2 linked regions of the Homo sapiens genome follow. The protein of the gene in region 2 interacts with the protein of the main gene of each other region in a biochemical or structural test. Each region holds a gene or a part of one and is shown on either strand. Other genes may lie near its edges.

What was found.
Region 1: the proteins of GPC6 (region 2) and PTPRS form a complex in vitro, tested with the Homo sapiens proteins (one study listed by BioGRID).

Annotation. Positions count from the first base shown.
Region 1 is NC_000019.10:5,334,108-5,337,930, forward strand, and holds part of PTPRS (receptor-type tyrosine-protein phosphatase S isoform 1 precursor), read right to left. Parts: exon of another isoform or gene 3,350-3,823; intron 3,233-3,349; exon of another isoform or gene 3,141-3,232; intron 2,849-3,140; exon of another isoform or gene 2,755-2,848; intron 2,668-2,754; exon of another isoform or gene 2,581-2,667; intron 2,457-2,580; exon of another isoform or gene 2,388-2,456; intron 1-2,387. UniProt on the Homo sapiens protein: Cell surface receptor that binds to glycosaminoglycans, including chondroitin sulfate proteoglycans and heparan sulfate proteoglycan.
Region 2 is NC_000013.11:93,229,790-93,233,612, reverse strand, and holds part of GPC6 (glypican-6 precursor), read right to left. Parts: intron 1-3,823. UniProt on the Homo sapiens protein: Cell surface proteoglycan that bears heparan sulfate. Putative cell surface coreceptor for growth factors, extracellular matrix proteins, proteases and anti-proteases. Enhances migration and invasion of cancer cells through WNT5A signaling.

The sequences.
Region 1 (3,823 bases), on a different chromosome or scaffold from region 2:
AGCTCCCGCCAGTCGCCCAGTCCTGCCGCAGAAGTGGGGCGGCCTTGATTAAGCAGCCAGTGAAGGGGAACGCCCCAGTTTGCAGTGGCTGAGTCATCCTGACATCTCCCTGGTGCTGGACCCCATCGGGGGGCTGAGGGCGGGGTAGCGGGGCGCGGGTGGACACTGGAGAGCCCCTCTTGGGCAGGTCCTTCAACATATCAGTGTAGCTCCCATGTTGTCAAAAATAATAACAAAAACAGAATAGAGGTGGCAGCTACATTCTAGGTGCCGTTCTGAATCTGTGCTTACACACGTTAACTCATTTCTTCCTCCTAACAATCCCTCAAGGTGGGCACTGTTACTCTTCTCCATAGACAGATGAGGAAGACGGAAGCACAGAGAGGTTGAGCAACTTGCCCCAGGTCACACAGCCAACAAGTCGGCAGAGCCGGGATTTGAACCCCATGCAGCCTCAGTCCAGCATCCTTGCTCTTAACCTCTGAGAAAAGGCAGTCAAGAGCCCTGGGGTGTGTGTGTGCGGGGGGTGTCTCTGTAGCGATTCAGGTGGCCCCCGCAGCAGATGGACTGCTGTCCAAACAAACATCCCTGACAATCGGGCAGAGCTCCTTCCAGGCGTTAGGAATCCAGGTTGTGGCAGCCAACAGCTTGTGGGCTGTGTGAAGTGACCTCAGGCCAGTGAAGGCCCCTCCCTGTGCCTCAGTTTCCCTCTCTGCAAAATAGGGCTCAGATCACAGCAACTCCGCTGACAGGGGACGGCAGGTTGGAGGAGACAAGGATGCTACTGACTTGCTTACTTAGCAGAGGGCCTGGCACGGGGCGCCAACTCTAAATAGTCGGAGCAGCTGTTATTATCCCCCCGACATCCCCTCATTTGCTGATCACGGGGGTTAATTATAAGCGGCATTAAATTATACACACACAGACGCGCCAACCTCGCTTCCCCAGAACCCCTGAATTTCCGCAAACTCTCAATTACCCACGTGACAGCGCGACGATGGGCCATCCTCCCAGCCTCTCTCCCCACAGCCTGCCTCATCCGAGGGTCCCAGGCTTCCAGAGCCATGGCTTCTCCGCCCGCCGGATACCCCTCTGGGTGTCCAGGAGCGGAAGGAAGGATGCATGCGACTGACTGCGGACGCGTTGAGAGCCAGGGGAGGCATGTTTACCCACAGCATCTCATGTCAAGGCTCGCCGCGACGCAGACTGCGACTGTACTGATCTTAGAGATGAGAGAACACAGAGAGGTCAGGCAACCCGCCCTAGTTTGCACAGCTCAAGTGAGGAGGGTGGCTCAAGTCAGGGCTCTGACCTGGAACCCAGAGGGGTAACCTCATTCTGTAAGTGAGGAAGCTCCTGCACGGAGAACTGAAAGGGAAGAGGGGAAGTCATCCAGGAAGGAAGGAAGGCAGGCAGGCAGGTGAGATCTGGGAGAAAAAGGGGAATTTTCAGTTCTCCAGGTAGGGGGAACAGGAGACAGCTGGCCCTTCCTATAAGGGGCTTATGGCAAAGATCAAAAACAACTTAAAAGGAGCAAGGCCACCCAGATAACATAAAGAGTACGAGATGAAATCTGTCCCCATGAAACGGGACATTTGTGATCCAGCCCCAGTTACGGCGATGGGGACCGGAGGAGGGAGTCCCCATGATCCAAAAATCCAGGCTCTGAACCCCCAACCAGGGTGGGATCCGCGGGAATCAGAAGGAAACAGGAAGCCGCACAGAAACCTGGGTTTATTTTCAGATGTGGAATATCCCCTCGGCCTCTGCGGGGCGCAGAGGGTGCCTTGATTCCGGGGAACAGAAGAGGGGATTCCACGGCTAGCCCAGAATAGCACCAGCCCCAAGGTCCAGTCTGGCCAGGCCACGATGTTGGGGGACCGGCAGCTCCATGGAGGAGGAGGAGGAGGAAAAAAAAAAAAGAGAGAGACAAAAATAAAGCGATGTGAAAGTGGAGGGCCTGTCCGTGAATCACTCCTACCCGTTAATTTTCGCCTTTGGAGAAGTGTAAGCCAATTGATTTTTCAAATTCCCCACACACAACCCCCTCCCCAGCGCTTCTCAAATATCAGCCAGAGACAAGACAGAAATGGTACGTCGGGTTTTTTTTTTTCTTCCCTTTTTGGTTGAGAGTCTTTTCTTTCCTTAAAGGAAAAGGGGGGGGGGCGGGGGGGAAACCACACACTCCACACTCTTGAACCTCAGGGTTAGAGAGACCCAGGTGTCACCTGTTTCCTAGACATTTTGGGGCTGCCACTCTCTGCGTGAGACAACAGCCACCCTTTCCCTCGATCACATCCCCTACACTTCACTTCCTCTCTCCGTGTCCCCCTTCCTCAATTCAGAATGTCACCTGGTGATAAGATGACATGCATTTGAGCCTCAATCCCCTTCCAGCATCCCCTCTCCTCTGCCCCGCAAGCCACAAGCTGGCAGCTTTCCGATTCCAGAGCAAGGTAAGGTGTGAAAATGACAAAATTCACAGTTTAAAAAGCCCTTGAAACCTTCAAGCCCCGGATACGTGCCTTGGTCCGTGAATCCATGGTGAATTTTTGGTTTTTTTGTTTTGTTTTGTATCAGCTTGCCACACGAATCCTGCGAGGAACAGCAGTTATGTCTTAATCTCCTCTCCTCCTGTCCCCACCGGAGGCTGAGCCACTCTGCCTGGTGAGCGGTTGGAGGGTGGGGCGGCGGCGGGTGGTGGGGGGGAGGGTCTCTCTTCAAATTCCCCTCCCTGGGCATCTTTTGCCGCAGGGAAGGACGGAGGAAGGGCAACCTGCACAGGCTTTGCCCGAGAAGGGTTCTCATCCTCCTTGCAAATTCTAAGAGGACACCCACCCATTGGAAGGTGAGCCAGGAGCCTACCCTGGATGCAGAGGAGAGCTGGGGAGTGCCCCTTTCTGGGACCCCTGTCTCCTTCCAGAAAGTACGAGACCCTCCCAGAAGGGGGCTACAGCGGTCAGCACTGCGCCCGCCAAACCTAAAGCTCATCTCAAGATCTTCCCGTGGCTCCGACCGACTCTGCAAATGGAGCTTAATGGGTAGCAGGGGGAAGGAATTGCTCTCAGCCGAAAAACATTAAGCTTTGTCAATTATCCCCCAAACCCGCTGGGTTTATAAATATCCCTTTTTATTTTTAGGGTTTTCCCTCCCGCTCGCCCCCATCCCGAACTCTCTCCACGCCCCGCTTCTTCCCCCACGCACACGGCGGCTGCACCGTCACAGAAAGCAGGTGAACGCGGGGCCACGGGGCGCTCGGGTAGAAATGCCACGTCGCACCACCAAGTCACACCGTCCCTGCCCGTCCCTCTCCGGCCATCCCACTAACTATTGTATTGGGGCCATGCAGCCGCTGGAATAATCAGCGAAGCCACAGGTCTCCCCATCTTGGCAAGTGGAGGTGTGCGCTGCCCTCAGACATCTGTGAACCGCTGTTCAACGCCAACCCCGAAGGCAGAAGGGGAAACCAAGTCACCTCCCAGAAAGACGTTTGATGAGCAGAGATAGATTTGCCTCCAGACTGGTACCAGGTCTGGGGAAACCCAGGCAGAGCCCCAGGCTCTATGCGACCCAAAGAAGAAAAAAATGGGTGCACAGTGATGGCTCCAGGTCTCCCCACCCAGATGCTACCACGAAATCCCTGGCATCCACGAAGCTTCCCCCTGTTCCATGGTGGAAATTGGGGGAAAATGGACTTGTGTCTCCAAGCAGGGTCCATGGACACTGGACGATGCCTGAAATCCCCTGGGAGGCAGGGAAAAAAGGCGCACTGAACGCTCAACCGGGGTATAAGGAGTGATTTTTTTTTCTCTGCTGGCAGCAG
Region 2 (3,823 bases):
CAGGTGTCCTTAGTGCTATGCATTTATCTCAGTTGGAATTAATTCATTGTGAATGGTGTCCTTAATTTCTGCTTCCCTGCTGGGATTCAAATTCCCTGGGGTTCTACCCCCAGAACCTGGTACAATGACTTACCCATAGTAGGTATACAATAAATACTCATTGCATGAAGAAAAAAATGCCTAGAAGAAAGAGAGAATGGGTTATTAAAATACCCAATAACCTGAATAATGTGAAAGTGTGAAACCAAATTTTGATTTTTTTTTTTTTGGCTACTAACTGGCACATTCATTTAAAACATATTTTTCATCCACGGTTATTAAAAATTCTTAGATATTTTCATCCAGGATTATTAGAATTTTAAAATATTTACCCAAGTCTCACCACTATGGAACCCTTTATTACAAATATATGATCCCAGGGAGTCAATAGTACTTTCAAACTGTACTATATATATCATTGAAAATTGAATAATACTGGAGAAATCTATGAAAATATTTAAAGTTAAATTATGTACCAGCTCAAGAATTTAACATAGCAGAATTTAGTCTGTAAAGAAATAAAATCACCAAGTTTAAAAGAATATTAAATCACTGTTTATACTGGCAAGATAAATCTAAATCACCTTACTGGCCTTTCTAGAAGTAATTTGAAAGATGTGAATTAAGTGGGGGTAAAGGTTGTTCTTATACTGTTATTTTTGTGGGTTTCAATATAAGATCAAAAGATTAAAATCATTTTTAAAGCAATTAATTTATTATAATGTTTACCCTAAACTCAGATTTCTATACAAAACTAGTGATTGAAGTTAGGTCATTTTAGGTTAGAACTACTCAATAATTTTGTGTTTTATAAGTGTTCGTAAATTTCATCCATAATTTTAAAAGAACACTAGTCACTTTCTTACATAATTTATGGCACAATCTTTATGCCATAATACTTAAAGAACATAATGCTGTACATTTTAAATCAATTTTGACAGTGGCCTATATTTCTACTCACAAGCTATTATTAAGATACAATGCAGTTGAGAGATATTTTATGTAAAAAAGTATATCAGTCAACTCAAATGAACTCTTGTTCCCAATGATGACATATTATCCTCTAATTAAATCAGCTAAGATAACTCACAATCGCTCTAAAATTAATGCCCAAATCAAGAGTTTAACAAGTGACGCTTCTAATAGCCCAACTTTTAGATTGCTTTGATACCTGGAATTAATGTGATTCTTTTAGAAATCTAGTGACTTGTAGAATCATTACAAAAACAAAAATTGAAGTTCACCTCACTCATTTGTGACTTACACTGTCCTTCCAAAAACTTTTAAAGAAATCAGCTAACTAAACAGGGGGCAAAGAAATAAGAAATCTTTGAACCAGGCAGATAAACAGAAATTAAACAATTTATCTCAAACTACGATATTTACTGTGGCTTTAAAGAGTAAGAGTTACCAAACACTGTTTTCCATTTAAGTTAATGTGATATCTCCATGGAAACTGGAAAAAAAAAAAAAAGTTGTGTAAATTGTAAATGTATTAAATTAGTTGGTTTGCCGGGGGAGCAGACAGAAAGACAGGTTTCCAGAGAAAGGAAACGCCCACTGGGCAAAGATCAGTGAAAAGGAAACATTATGTATTTTGAAACAAGCAAATAATCTTTTTAAACTGTAGATTTTTAGATAAATACTTGATAAATTAATATCAAATAGATGAAGACTTTAGTGCTTTTTTAATATCCAGCTGTAACCCAACTCTCAAAATACCTGGGACAGAAAAAGTTGCAAAATAAATACTGAAAACAGAGCTAGTTACATTTTTTTTTCTAATCTGTGGAGATAAATGTTCTTACTCCCTCTAGCCCCATGAATAACTTTCCAGCATGAGCTTTGTTGGACTAACCCAATATTTCAATAGGCCTAGTATACTGAAAGAAACCAAGACATGTACTTTAGTTTCTGTGTTTTATGTAACTATATCTTGCCAGAAAACGTTCAGAAAAAGGCATAAACGCATGAACCATTTAATGGTGGTAGCATGGCCAATTCCTGAGAATACAAAATCCAAAGTCAAAGTGATATTGAGAATTAGAGACGTTGGAACAAAATAGAAACGTATTTAGCATGCAAAACTGGAAGGGATACATATATGTATATAGTGATTAATAATACCAGACTATATATATATATATACGTATATATATATATATATATATATATACATATATATATATATATGTATATATATATATATATACGTATATATATATATGTATATATATATATACGTATATATATATATATGAAATGAGGAAAGAATAGATTTTGCATGCATTCATTCAAAATAAATGGTGAATGTTTAATACTGTAAGGCAGTGAGCCAAGTTAGGTATATAGACCCTGGAGTCAGAGTGCCTGGGTTTGAACTGCAGCCTCATTACTTACTAGTAGAGTCACCCTTAGGTAAGTTTATTAAAGTTCCTGTCACACAGCCTTTTTATCTATAAAATGGGGTTAATGTGTAGTATCTACTAAGTTATTGGAAGAATTCAGTAAGGTGATATTATAAAGGTAATAATTTTTAAGTAGGTGATGGGCACATAGTAAATTCTATATAAGAGATTGTTAAATAATGTCACATTACATAAGTAATGAAAACATGATCATGTAGGCCAATAAGTCACTGTTAACTACAAAGTGTTATAATTAATGATCCTAGCAAGACTCAAGGCATAAAACAGTGGCAGAGTAAGCCTGAAACAACATTCTCTGAATTTCCCAGAGTTTTAAGCAGGTGCTATTTTCAGTGGTAGAGTTCCTTTAGAAGTTTAGAGCCACCAACATGAGGAGGATTGGAAACTTAGGTCATAATTCTGATGAATGAGGAAAGACTAGAATGTTTCACACTGACCTTTGATGAGAGTAACTCTCCTAACAAAGAACCTGATGATTCACTGCTCAGTATCTTCCCAGAGGATAGAACAAGAAAAAATAAGCAAGCATATTGTGAAGGCTTTTGGCTAGATATCTGGAAACATTTCTATACCACAAGAATTGCTAAATATTAGAATGGATTGCTGAAAGGGGATCAAGAGTCTACTCCTTTGGAAGTTTTTCAAACAAGGATAAATAGTCTATCTGATCTCCTTGCCATGGTTTAAAATCAGTGCTGAGTGAAAACTGATGGTGCAAACTGCCCCTTGAAGGCCTCCTCCTTCCCAAGCATTCTCTGAAAGCATAACTTTATATATTACCTGTGATACTTCCTCATCTGTTGGGTTTCCATTCTATCCTAGAATAGAAAAGGGCAACACTATTTCACAATTGTGAGTTCTGAGTAAAACTTTGATAATGTCATGATGAAACATAATGTCCTTATTACTTCTCAAGTTATTTCACTAAGCAAGCTACCTGCAAATAGCTTTCAATTAGAAACAGCTGTCATGAATCTGAAGTCTGAACAGCAATTCTTTTAAATTTATGTGCCCTGGCAGATTGAAGACACATGAAATTCTTCAAGCAAACCATTAGATGCCCAATCAAGGCAAAGGATAAAAAAGAGTTTAAGAAAAGATAACCACTTACACTAGATAATTAAATGTAAACAGTATCAAGAACTAGGGAGGAGAGATAGAGTGTGTTCCTGTAACAACAGGGTATATTTCCTAAGTGATTATTAAAACAGCAATAGGTAGCATTAAGTAAAGTTGATTTTGAAAAAACAAGTATATCCTTAAAAAACACAATTATCTTTCAATTCATTATTTTCCTATTAAATGTGCCTCTGACCCTGTGGTGACCTGCATCTTGATTATGTCTACCAGCATCA